Homo sapiens: one gene and its partner. The protein of the gene in region 1 interacts with the protein of each later gene in a pairwise test. Each region holds a gene or a part of one and is shown on either strand. Other genes may lie near its edges.

Evidence for each region. The genes of interacting proteins can lie anywhere in the genome.
Region 2: the proteins of HCN4 (region 1) and KCNE2 interact in a two-hybrid assay, tested with the Homo sapiens proteins (one study listed by BioGRID).

What each region holds. Positions count from the first base shown.
Region 1 is NC_000015.10:73,365,944-73,373,507, reverse strand, and holds the start of HCN4 (potassium/sodium hyperpolarization-activated cyclic nucleotide-gated channel 4), read left to right. Parts: upstream 1-4,549; 5' UTR 4,550-5,237; coding exon 5,238-6,022; intron 6,023-7,564. UniProt on the Homo sapiens protein: Hyperpolarization-activated ion channel that are permeable to Na(+) and K(+) ions with very slow activation and inactivation. Exhibits higher selectivity for K(+) over Na(+) ions.
Region 2 is NC_000021.9:34,366,990-34,371,896, forward strand, and holds the end of KCNE2 (potassium voltage-gated channel subfamily E member 2), read left to right. Parts: intron 1-3,181; exon of another isoform or gene 3,182-3,477; 5' UTR 3,478-3,489; coding exon 3,490-3,861; 3' UTR 3,862-4,392; downstream 4,393-4,907. UniProt on the Homo sapiens protein: Ancillary protein that functions as a regulatory subunit of the voltage-gated potassium (Kv) channel complex composed of pore-forming and potassium-conducting alpha subunits and of regulatory beta subunits.

The DNA.
Region 1 (7,564 bases):
CCCAGCAGGAAGTCTATATGTCCCTGATCCCTGTCCAGCCCTACAGAGCAGACCTGCCTTGGGGCAGAGCAGAAGTGCAGGACTGTATCTACACTGAGCAAAAAGATGAAGTGGCATGTATGTATGGATACCACTTGCCACCACCCCCAGCCTTCTCAGAGGGTTTTGAGCACAGGGTCAACGATGTGGCCCTCTGAGTTAGCAGCTGCCTATATAGCAGGGGTGTCCAATCTTTTGGCTTCCCTGGGCCACACTGGAGGAAGAAGAATTGTCTTGGGCCACACATAAAATATACTAACATTAACAATAGCTGATGAGCTAAAAAAATCGCAAAAAAATCTCATAATGTTTTAAGAAAGTTTACAAGTTTGTGTTGGGCTGCATTCAAAGCTGTCCTGGGCTGCATGTGGTCTGTGGGCTGCGGGTTGAACAAGCTTGCTGTAGAGCTTGGGGCCACAGCAAGGTCCTGTCCCAGAGAGAAGGAAGTCTGCCTTCTGGAGACCCAGCCAGGGCTTGTCAGGGATGGAGAGTTCAAAGGAAGGAATCTTGTATAAAACATCCCTTTCATCCCAACAGAAAGTTTTAAGATGATATGACCTAAATTGGATTCCAAAGGCCAGGAGCCTTCCTCTCCATTGGGTAATGCAGGTTTCATTCCATCATTTCATCATTCAGTGTTTACTGAGAACTTACTACAAATGAGATGCTATGCTAGGTGCATTCATTTTCTCATGTAGTCTTAGCAATAACTTTTGAGGTGCATATCATTAAACCCATTTTACACACGAGGAAGATCGAGGCATACACAGGCAGTAACTGACAGAGAAGTACTTAATTCTCCAGCTTTTGTTTTTCAGTTTCATGCTCTATTGTTTACAACAGGGGTTCCCAGACTTTTGGAACTTATAGATCAATAACATTTCAAAAATGATTTTTCGGAACAAACACAGAACCCAGTGCCAACTTTTTATTTAGCCAACGACATTGAAAAAACAGCATCTTCCAGCACCATGATTTCATAAAAGGGCATTTTAACACAGAGAATGTAGCAAGGATATAACCTTAGAATAAAGACAGCCTTCTAAGAAAGGACAGTTGGCAACCTTAACCTAAAATATCCTACATTGTTCTGTGTGTGTGTGTGTGTGTGTGTGTGTGTGTGTGTGTGTGTGTGTGTGTGTGTTTTCATCTCATTTCAAGCAGAACTGGCCAAAACTTTGGCATTGCAGGCTGTGGGAGCCACTGCCCTACCCCAGAGCTGCCTCTCCAAGCAAGAACAATGCCCTCTGCCCATAAGCAAATAAGCTTCCAGAATTTCCCATCCCCCTCTGCCCATCTAGGTCCCCCACAAATAAGGTCTGAGGTTGATTTATACAATCAGCTACATTCTCCACTTCTACTCCCAGCAGGTCTTCTAACTTTCACTGATATTCAGTGTCCGTTCCAGGGAAGGAAACCCATCCTCCCCAGTCCCCTTCTCTCTTAGACTCAGATGTTTTCTACATTTGCATTCCAGGAATATCCAGGCCCGCTGCAGCACTGCAGCAGCCCATTTGTCTCCAAAGTCCCCTAGTCCCCCACCCATGGTGAGAGCAGCAGGTCTTCTCCATATATTTCAGTCCTGAGACAGGGCCTTCCCCTTGCTGGGGTCCCCAGGGCCTGGCTACCATGTTATCAAAGGAACCAGAGCAGACCCCAGGCCTTCTAGGCAGTGCTGGAAAGGAGAGGGTGTGAGACCCAGGTGGAGCAATGGGGAGATTACAGAATGTGGGAGTCCTATTTATTCTCTCCCCATTCTTTACCTTCTCTCTCCTTCTCCTTCCTCCATCTGTGCCTGCCCCCTACCCCACCTGCATGAGCAGATGGGCAGTAGAGCACAGCCTGCCCTGTGGAGCCCTTGAATTCTAGCTTCACCATTTTCTTGCTATGGGGCATTTGGCAAGCCTCTTGACCTCTCTGTGCTTTAGTTCTCTTGCCTGCAAATGGGAGTAAGAATGTCAGGTTGACTCACGTGAAATTGCCAAAATTTGACAATATTGGGCTCACAAAAATCAAAATTTCATGTGGTTTAACAACAAAAAGGTGTAAACTGTAAAGTGTTAGATATATGTCTCTCATCAAGTCTGGCCCCCTCCTCCAGGAAACCCTCCCTAGCTACTCCAAGGCCAGCAATAGCTCCCTCTGAAATCTCTCATGGTTGGGGACATGATTTAATATACATTTCTTTCCTGTCTTCAGTTTTCCTGCTCTATTTTCATGCCCTATTCCTGAGAATGAGTCTAGCTTCCTCACAACTTGAAGCCCATCAAGGGCAAGACCTGGGGCTGCTCCTCCTCTGTCCCCTGGACTGTTGGCACACCACCAGTGTCCTCCATTAGGGTTTCCACATAAAGGAGGCAGGAGAAGCCAGATCTCATCAGGGTTTATCAAGGGCCTGATTTATCTAATAGTCATTGCTGCACCTAAAGTTGGTCCTAGATGGTCGTGAATGGGTGCCACTAATGAAATTGAGGGCGAGTGAGGTGCTGGTAGGGTGGAATTAAGAGATCCTGACCCCTGGCCGGCCTGTGGCAGCAGTATCCCAGGAAGCAGAATTTTGGTCTTATCCTCCATCTCCTCCAAGCATCCCCTCCAATGCCATTAGCTAACTTCTAGGGTCCCTCACTCATTTGTAGAGTTGAAACTTATTAATCTGCTTTCTGTCCACCCTTGTGTTGGTGGAGAGGTCCCTGAGATAAGGTGGACCTGCTCCACCCTCAGGGCACAGACTGCACTGTGTAATCAGTGCTCAGGGTCACAGGAGCTAATGGGCCATGGGAACCAAAGGCAGGGACATGACCAAGGTTTTGGTGATTAGGAAAGGGTTCCCAGAGGAGGAGATGTCTCTACCATAGGTCATGGGGAAGCCTATATGGGCTGACTTCCTGAGCGGGGTTAAGGCAGACTAACTCCCAGCTAGACAAAGAAGCTCAAAGAAGTGTGTTAAATGGAGGTCTTCCCTCCTGTGGCTGGTAGACCAGGGCAGGCTGGGCTCACAGCTCTTTAAGAACACTTCTTCTCAAGGAGACCCAAGGACACTCAGGGATTAGGCTTCCAGCATCTGTGCAGAGAACTGTCAGCTCAGAGCTGCTCAAAAGTAAAAATGCCAGCTACCAGTGATGTCATCACCCTAGTCATTCCTCTCACTGTGGGAGGTCCTGTGGTCCAGTGGGTAGAGCAGAAGAGCCCCTGCTAGGCTGCCCGCCCCGCATCCTGCTCTCCAAATTCCTACTCTGGATGGAGGAGGCGAAAGTGGTCACATTGGGCTAAGAATGAGAGTAAAAAAATCATTTGAAGAAAAACTTGATGTTATTCCTCAGAGAGATGGCAGAGCCAGGGGACCTTTTTGCCTCCCTCCTGTGAGACTTTGCTGTGTGTCCGCTCCAGCATTAACCTCGGCTCCAGCCTTCTCTGGACAACTCCCCTCCCCTTAATGCCCAATCTGTCCCCCTATCCATTTCTGAGCTAATCTGGGGTATCAGGCTGTCCATGGTGTTGGAGGGGGTAGGGCTATACCTTAGGCTGAGCTAGTGAAATCTGTCCATAAGCCCGGACACTGTACACTGGGAGAGACTGGGAGAGAGGACACACAGTTGGATCCTTGGCGGGGGTTGGGGGGAAGGGGGCTGGGCTGCAGACTGGAAGGGAGTGGGGGCTGTGCAGCTGCTTGGGGGTGCAGGTAGGGGACTGGGTGGAACAGGAACTCACCCAGCGTGGGTCCACATAGTAGGTGTCATAATGTGGATGGGAACACAGGGAGAAGGGGCTCCAAAGCCAGTTCCAGAGTGCTGGGGCGTCCGAGGAACCGGCCCAACCGCTCCCCGCTGCAGCCGGCTTGTCCCTTTCTCGGAACTACCGAGGGAGAGGCGCGTGCGGAGGTCGGCGTTCGGATCTCGCATCCGTCACTGTTGCCGGCGCATTTCCTCGAAGTCTTACCTCGAAGGGCTGGGTCCCACCCGCGCGCCCTGTGCGTGTCTCCCTGTTTCCCCACGCCCTCCTTGCCTGGCTGCTGCGAGGCTTTGCAGGGGAAAGACTGGCGCGGGGTTCGCACCCTGCCCATGTCACAGGAAAACCGTGGGAGCCTCCCCGACGCGGCGCATTTCCGGAAGCCCCCTCTCCAGGAGGGTTGCGGGAAGGCCGGGACTCTGCATCCAGACGAACCCGGTCGCCTCCCAAGAGGAAAGTCGGAGACCCAGCTGAGGGGCAAAAATGCCAGGGAAAGGCGAGCCCAGAGCTTGGTGATGGAGAAATTGGGAAGCCACCCCCCACCCTTCAATCTTAGGATGGGGAATTCGCAACTGAAGCCGGAGCTTCAGACTTGGGGCGCACTCCCAGCTTAGCCCAGGAAAGAGATTTAAGGGCGCAGCAGTGTGGATACCTCTCACCCCGGCCCCGAAGGTCTAGCGAGGGTCTAACCTGGGCCCCTTGCCAGGCCCGCCCCCCGCCCCTTTCCAGCCCCCGGCCCGTGCGCCGCTGCCCCTTTAAGAAGCCCAGGTAGGCAGGCCCGGCTGCTGGAGCCGCTCCTATGGCAACCCGCGAGCTGCGGCGGCTTCATGAATATTCCGGGGCGCGGGAGCCCGAGCGCTGCCGGAGGGCGCTTCGGGGGAGGCGGCCGCTGATGTAAGCCCGGCGGGTCGCTGGGCTCCGCTCGGTTGCGGCGGGAGCCCCGGGACGGGCCGGACGGGCCGGGGCAGAGGAGGCGAGGCGAGCTCGCGGGTGGCCAGCCACAAAGCCCGGGCGGCGAGACAGACGGACAGCCAGCCCTCCCGCGGGACGCACGCCCGGGACCCGCGCGGGCCGTGCGCTCTGCACTCCGGAGCGGTTCCCTGAGCGCCGCGGCCGCAGAGCCTCTCCGGCCGGCGCCCATTGTTCCCCGCGGGGGCGGGGCGCCTGGAGCCGGGCGGCGCGCCGCGCCCCTGAACGCCAGAGGGAGGGAGGGAGGCAAGAAGGGAGCGCGGGGTCCCCGCGCCCAGCCGGGCCCGGGAGGAGGTGTAGCGCGGCGAGCCCGGGGACTCGGAGCGGGACTAGGATCCTCCCCGCGGCGCGCAGCCTGCCCAAGCATGGGCGCCTGAGGCTGCCCCCACGCCGGCGGCAAAGGACGCGTCCCCACGGGCGGACTGACCGGCGGGCGGACCTGGAGCCCGTCCGCGGCGCCGCGCTCCTGCCCCCGGCCCGGTCCGACCCCGGCCCCTGGCGCCATGGACAAGCTGCCGCCGTCCATGCGCAAGCGGCTCTACAGCCTCCCGCAGCAGGTGGGGGCCAAGGCGTGGATCATGGACGAGGAAGAGGACGCCGAGGAGGAGGGGGCCGGGGGCCGCCAAGACCCCAGCCGCAGGAGCATCCGGCTGCGGCCACTGCCCTCGCCCTCCCCCTCGGCGGCCGCGGGTGGCACGGAGTCCCGGAGCTCGGCCCTCGGGGCAGCGGACAGCGAAGGGCCGGCCCGCGGCGCGGGCAAGTCCAGCACGAACGGCGACTGCAGGCGCTTCCGCGGGAGCCTGGCCTCGCTGGGCAGCCGGGGCGGCGGCAGCGGCGGCACGGGGAGCGGCAGCAGTCACGGACACCTGCATGACTCCGCGGAGGAGCGGCGGCTCATCGCCGAGGGCGACGCGTCCCCCGGCGAGGACAGGACGCCCCCAGGCCTGGCGGCCGAGCCCGAGCGCCCCGGCGCCTCGGCGCAGCCCGCAGCCTCGCCGCCGCCGCCCCAGCAGCCACCGCAGCCGGCCTCCGCCTCCTGCGAGCAGCCCTCGGTGGACACCGCTATCAAAGTGGAGGGAGGCGCGGCTGCCGGCGACCAGATCCTCCCGGAGGCCGAGGTGCGCCTGGGCCAGGCCGGCTTCATGCAGCGCCAGTTCGGGGCCATGCTCCAACCCGGGGTCAACAAATTCTCCCTAAGGATGTTCGGCAGCCAGAAAGCCGTGGAGCGCGAACAGGAGAGGGTCAAGTCGGCCGGATTTTGGATTATCCACCCCTACAGTGACTTCAGGTAAGGGGCCACAGCGATGATCCTGTGGGTGCCCTGCGCGGTGGCAGGCATGCCTCCTCCTGACCCTGCCTCCCAGCCGGAGTTAACTTTCCTGCCTTGCGCTGGGAGCTCCAAGAGAGGCAGGGCGCCTCTAGGCTCCGAGACACCCCCAGGCCCCCTCCTGCACCGCGCTGGGGGAACTTTCCTCTGGGTTCAGTCACTGGTCTTCTCGGGTCTGGGCTGCATTGGAGACAGAATGAAAAGGTGTTCTGAGCCTGGCCTACCCCTGCCGGCAGCCAGGATAGGGCTCTGCCACCTTAAGCCACATATTCCTCCTCCCCCTTCAAGGCTGCAGAGTCAGGATGGCCATCCTAGAGGCAGCTCCGGGTCATTCAGCCTGCAGAGCAGGGCCGTGAAGAGAGACAGACCTCTTAGCAACGGGCCAGCTCCTTGGGTGCTGACAGCAGGCATTTATGTCTGCTTTCTGGTGCCCTGGGAAGCTGCGGCCGGGTCCCTGGAGGACCGAAGTCACTGGGGCCTCAGGCCGGGATGAAAACCCCCTGCACCCACCGTAACCCTGAGCTCAGCTCCTCATGCTGAGTGGTGGGCCAAGAGCAGGCACCCTGGGCAGCTGGCATCCAGAGCGGCAGGGCTGAATGACCTTGCTCATAGTGATGGGTGAAGATGCCTGGTGTTCTGACTGATGAGCAGCTGTCCTGTGTCCCATGCTTGTCCAGTGGCCCATCCATACCCCAGAGACCCAAGCTCCAGCATCTGCTTGGTCTCTCATGGGCCACTCGTGGGTCCCCAAACAAGGTATGACTGCCAGTCAGGGAGAGGGACCCTGCCCCCTTCCACATCACTTGAGTCGGATGCCACTGAACAGCAGATACCACTGGGAGCTTGTGGGCATATTTGTGCAAAAAGAGGGATTGTTGGTTGTTTCTAGGGTTGGGATCAGGGATGCCTTTACCTAAGTCAAGGTCCTAAGGTTCCCTAGTGCCCCTCTGGGCTTTCGTGATGCATGAGATTGTGATGAAGGTCTGGGAAACACTTTTCAAGCTGGGTTTAATTCTCTCATTCTCTCTTTCTCTGGGCCCTGCCGCCTACTTATCTCCCTTCCTTGCCTACCTTAGTTGCCTGCCTATAAAAATGAGCATTTTGCCAACCCAGAGCCCTCTTTGCAAACTCCAGGGAAGCTGGGTTTGTAATGAGAGCAAAGCCATTTTCCATCCAATGAGAGAGATTTCTCGCACTGGGAATGACCAGTCAGACAACACTCGGTGGCTTAAAATAGGTAGTGAACAGAGCCCCTCCCCCCTTTTTTCCTTTGACAGACTGCTCTTCCTAACCCTAATATCTCCAGGGTTCCCATTCCCAGAAGACTAGGGAGACCAGAGGGCAGGCTAAACAGACAGCCATAGTCATCAAATTGTGTGAGCAAATGTGGGACCCTCCCATCAGGAACGGTGTCTGGGTTCCCAGTGCCAGGTTCCTGAAGAGTGGGCTTGCCTCTGGCCAGTACTGGGCCCTGAGGATCCTGGGCCGAGCTAGAGAGGAGTG
Region 2 (4,907 bases), on another chromosome or scaffold:
AAAAAAAAAAAAGGAAAAAAACAAAACTAACATGGTCATTTGCAGAAGGGGCAGAAAAAGGGTCTCTGCCTAGACCTGGGGAGGTCAGGGAAAGTACTATGGATTGGTAACAACCGGCTGGGCTTCCTACAAGAGAAAAAGACTATACTCACAGAGCCAGACCCCATCTCAAAAAAAAAAAAAAAAAAAAGTCTGGCATGGTGGCTCAAACCTGTAATCCCAGCACCTTGGGAGGCTGAAGCAGGGGGATCACTTGAGCCTAGGAGTTTAACAACATAGTGAGACCTCATCACTACTTTTTTATTTTAAAAAAGAGTTAATAAAAAATAAAATGAAAATAAAAGGGTAAAAGAGCCAGTGGCAAAGTCTTGAGTGGATTAAAGCCAGCTCAGCTAACTTTCACAGCAGACTATATCATTTTAAAGGGGAAAAAGCACATCTCTGTTACATTGCTTAGGAAATATGCTTGGTATATACCCTGGGGCAATCTTATCTATTTGTTAAGTTTCCTTCCAACCCACTAGCCTGTGTGGCCAGGAGAGGGAGACAAAGATCTTAGAGCTCTCTAAATAATAGAACTTAAAACATCAGACAGAGAAGAGTATATTATCTTGGTGATGGTAATTCTCAATGAGGAAAATCCTGGGGAGGGATGTTCTGTGGGAGAATGCCTGCAAGTTTATTTGTTTAGTAGGTTTGATTATTCAGCTGATTGAAATTCCTTTCCCAGATGGGGAGATCTGATTCTCTTTTCATGAAGGAAAGAAAAGTCACATGCTAAAGAGACGGGCATGTCTTTAGAACGGCAGCAGGCAAACCCACTGCTGGGATCCTGGGGCTTTTACTAGTGGCTAGTCACAGGTTTACCTCCTGCCTGTGCTCCTTCTAGCTGTGTTGAAACCCACTTGCCCCATCTATGAACCGTGTTCAGCTCCATTTTCTGAGCCCCCTTATCTTTTTGTCCATACCTGTTGCAACTCTTTGCACGTTGCATTGTCATTGATTTGGTCTCTCCCATTCAACTGAGCCTCTCACAGAGTTCCTGTCACCTCTGCAGTTTCATCGCCTAGCATAGTACCTGGCACTTTAATTCATGCATCAAATGTCCATTGAGTGCCTTCTATGTGTTAGACATCTGCTATACCGAGCTAGACAAAGTTGGCAGACATGACAGCCGAGTGGAAAAGATGAGCCCCTAAACCAATAATCACACACACACACACACACACACACACACACAATATATATATATATATATATATATATATATATGTATGTTATATATATGTATGTTATATATATGTATGTATGTATGTATTAAAAAATCTTGGCCGGGAGCGGTGGCTCACACCTGTAATCTCAGCACTTTGGGAGGCCGAGGCAGGTGGATCACGAGGTCACGAGATCGAGACCATCCTGGCTAACATGGCGAAACCCCGTCTCTACTAAAAATACAAAACATTAGCCAGGCGTAGTGGCGGTTGCCTGTAGTCCCAGCTACTTGGGAGGCTGAGACAGGAGAATCACTTGAACCTGGGAGGCAGAGGTTGCAGTGAGCCAAGATCGCGCCACTGCACTCCAGCCTGGGTGACAGAGCGAGACTCCGTCTCAAAAAAACAAAAAATTTTTGCCTTGCAATCGTTTGCCTTGATGTTATGTCTAAAGCCCCACAATTCTCTAAAAACAGAGATGTATAAAAAAGCACACGTATATAATTCTCTGAAAACAGAATATAAATGAGTCATTGCTCCATTTAACTGACATTTGTTGAGTGCTTGTTATAAATATGGCATTATTCTAGCTGGTGTGAGGTTACCAATTTTTTTTAAACAAAAGTAATATGAATATATACACACACATTTAGTGACTGCATATGTGATGTGTGCTTTTGAAGAAAAAGGAGATGCTGTTGGAGGAAAATGGTGGTGGTGGTGGGAAGTGATTTAGAGTAGAACCAGGGAAGTCTCAGAAGTGACAACTAGCTGGAACCTAAAGAACGAGGAGGTAGCAGGTGGAAGAGAAAGGCAAAGGCATTCTAGGTTGAGAGAATAGGATGTGATAATGTCCCGAGGAAAGAGAGCTTACTGACAGGGAGGGAAGATGTCAGGTGTGACCGAACTGTAGTGAGCAAAGGGTAACTGAGGAGGTGGTCAGGAGCCTGCTCAGCCAATGGGGTAAATACTGTTAAGGAATTAGGACTTGATTTTAAGAACAACCATCGCATCATTTTAAAAGCAAACAAATTGCACTATAATTTCCCTCTTCAAAAAGGCACATTGGCTGTGCACGGTGGCTGACACATGTAATCCCAGCACTTTGGGAGGCTGAGGCGGGTGGATCACCTGAAGTCAGGAGTTCGAGACCAGCCTGGCCAATGTGTTGAAACCCCGTCTCTACCAAAAATACAAAAGTTAGCCAGGCGTGGTGACATGTGCCTGTAATCCCAGCTACTTGGGAGGCTGAGGCATGAGAATTGCTTGAACTGGGGAGGCGGAGGTTTCAGTGAGCAGAGATCGTGCCACCCCACTCCAGCCTGGACGACAGAGCAAGATTCCGTCTTAAGAAAAAAAAAAGGGCACATTGATGGCTATTCAAGGCAGAGAGGGGCACATATAACCCCAAAGAGATGGCTCTGGGGAGGGTTGTGTTGTATTACATTGTTGGCATTGTATTATCCAGGTGAGAGATGCTGGAGGCTGGGCGGTGCCAGTGGTGATGAAAAGGAGAGATGGATTTGAAACATAGGAATAATCTCTCAGATTGTTTCTTGGCATCACTTACCTAAAATGCTTCTTTCAAATATAGATGTACACACCCCTCCCTTTAGGATACTTGGGACAATGTGCCACTTAGACATAGGGGATGGAACAAATTGGAGAGTCTGTCAATGCCCCCTGCAATCTTTTCTCTTGATGTTATCTCATAATGCCCCACAATTCTCTAAAAACAGAGAACATAAATGAGTCATTGGTCCATTCCACTGACGTTTGTTGAGTGCTTGTTATGAATGTGGCATTATTCTAGCTCTTGTAAGGTTACCAATTTTTTAAAAAACAAAAGTAATGCAAGACTGCTGATGAAAATTTGGAATATGAGAAAAGCATAAAGAAGAAAATACATATCTTTAAGCACACCACCCACTGTTAACATTCTGATCTATGTACTTCTAATATTTTCTCCATTTTCATATGTACACATACATTTATTTACATGCATATATAAATATCAAAGTGTATATATATAATTTTCTCTGCCATTTAAATTTTTACTGTGTAACAATCATGGATTGTAAAAAAAGTGAATAAAATGTACGCAGTCAGTTTAAAGACTAACAAAATATGCATTAAATCACCAGCCAGGTTAAGAAGAAATACTATTACTTATACCCTGGCATCTCCCTCCCACCTTTACATAGCCAAATCCAGAAAAGATCCGTTTTCCTAACCTTGTTCGCCTATTTTATTATTTAAATTGCAGCAGGAGGGAAGCATGTCTACTTTATCCAATTTCACACAGACGCTGGAAGACGTCTTCCGAAGGATTTTTATTACTTATATGGACAATTGGCGCCAGAACACAACAGCTGAGCAAGAGGCCCTCCAAGCCAAAGTTGATGCTGAGAACTTCTACTATGTCATCCTGTACCTCATGGTGATGATTGGAATGTTCTCTTTCATCATCGTGGCCATCCTGGTGAGCACTGTGAAATCCAAGAGACGGGAACACTCCAATGACCCCTACCACCAGTACATTGTAGAGGACTGGCAGGAAAAGTACAAGAGCCAAATCTTGAATCTAGAAGAATCGAAGGCCACCATCCATGAGAACATTGGTGCGGCTGGGTTCAAAATGTCCCCCTGATAAGGGAGAAAGGCACCAAGCTAACATCTGACGTCCAGACATGAAGAGATGCCAGTGCCACGAGGCAAATCCAAATTGTCTTTGCTTAGAAGAAAGTGAGTTCCTTGCTCTCTGTTGAGAATTTTCATGGAGATTATGTGGTTGGCCAATAAAGATAGATGACATTTCAATCTCAGTGATTTATGCTTGCTTGTTGGAGCAATATTTTGTGCTGAAGACCTCTTTTACTTTCCGGGCAAGTGAATGTCATTTTAATCAATATCAATGATGAAAATAAAGCCAAATTTGAAGTAAAGTGTCTGGGCAGTGGCTGTGGGGATAGAAAGGAGAGATTTACAAATCATTGAATCTTCTTTCTCATGAAACATCATTTGTGTGTGACAAATTCAATTTATAAATAACCCAGATGTATTATGTAGAAGCTGAGGCTCAAAAGCTATCACTTGCTTACCAGACGGACATAGGAGCATTTATCTGTAATATTAATTCATGAGTGTGGAGTCTGAAGAGATGAATAAACAAACCATAAGATTACTTTACATTTATTGTTTTCCTGGCCTTTAACCTATTTAGAAGTCTTAAGACAGAACAAACATTTTTCTTTTTCTTTTTCTTTTTCTTTTGAGACATGGTCTCTCTCTGTCACCCAGCCTGGAGTGCAGTGGTGCAATCTCAGCTCACTGCAGCCTCAACCTCCCGGGCTCAAGTGATCCTCCCACCTCAGCCTCCCTAGTAGCTGGGACTACAGGCACGTGTGCCACCACACCCAGCTAACTTTTGTATTTTTTTGTAAAAACAGGGTCTCACTATGTTGCCCAGGCTGGTCTCGAACCTGAACAAACATTTCAAAGGACAAATAATCCATACCAGAGAAGTAGAGTATTTAAGAAGTACCCAGTATAACAAAACATATTTTAAAACTAACATTTAAAGTTTTGCAGAAAACTAATCTTAAAAAGTTCTCATTATTTAAGAAAAAAAAATAAAAAGTTATAATGTCGCTTTAAAAATGTATTCTTTTAACTTGATTTAGTTTTCCTCTATTT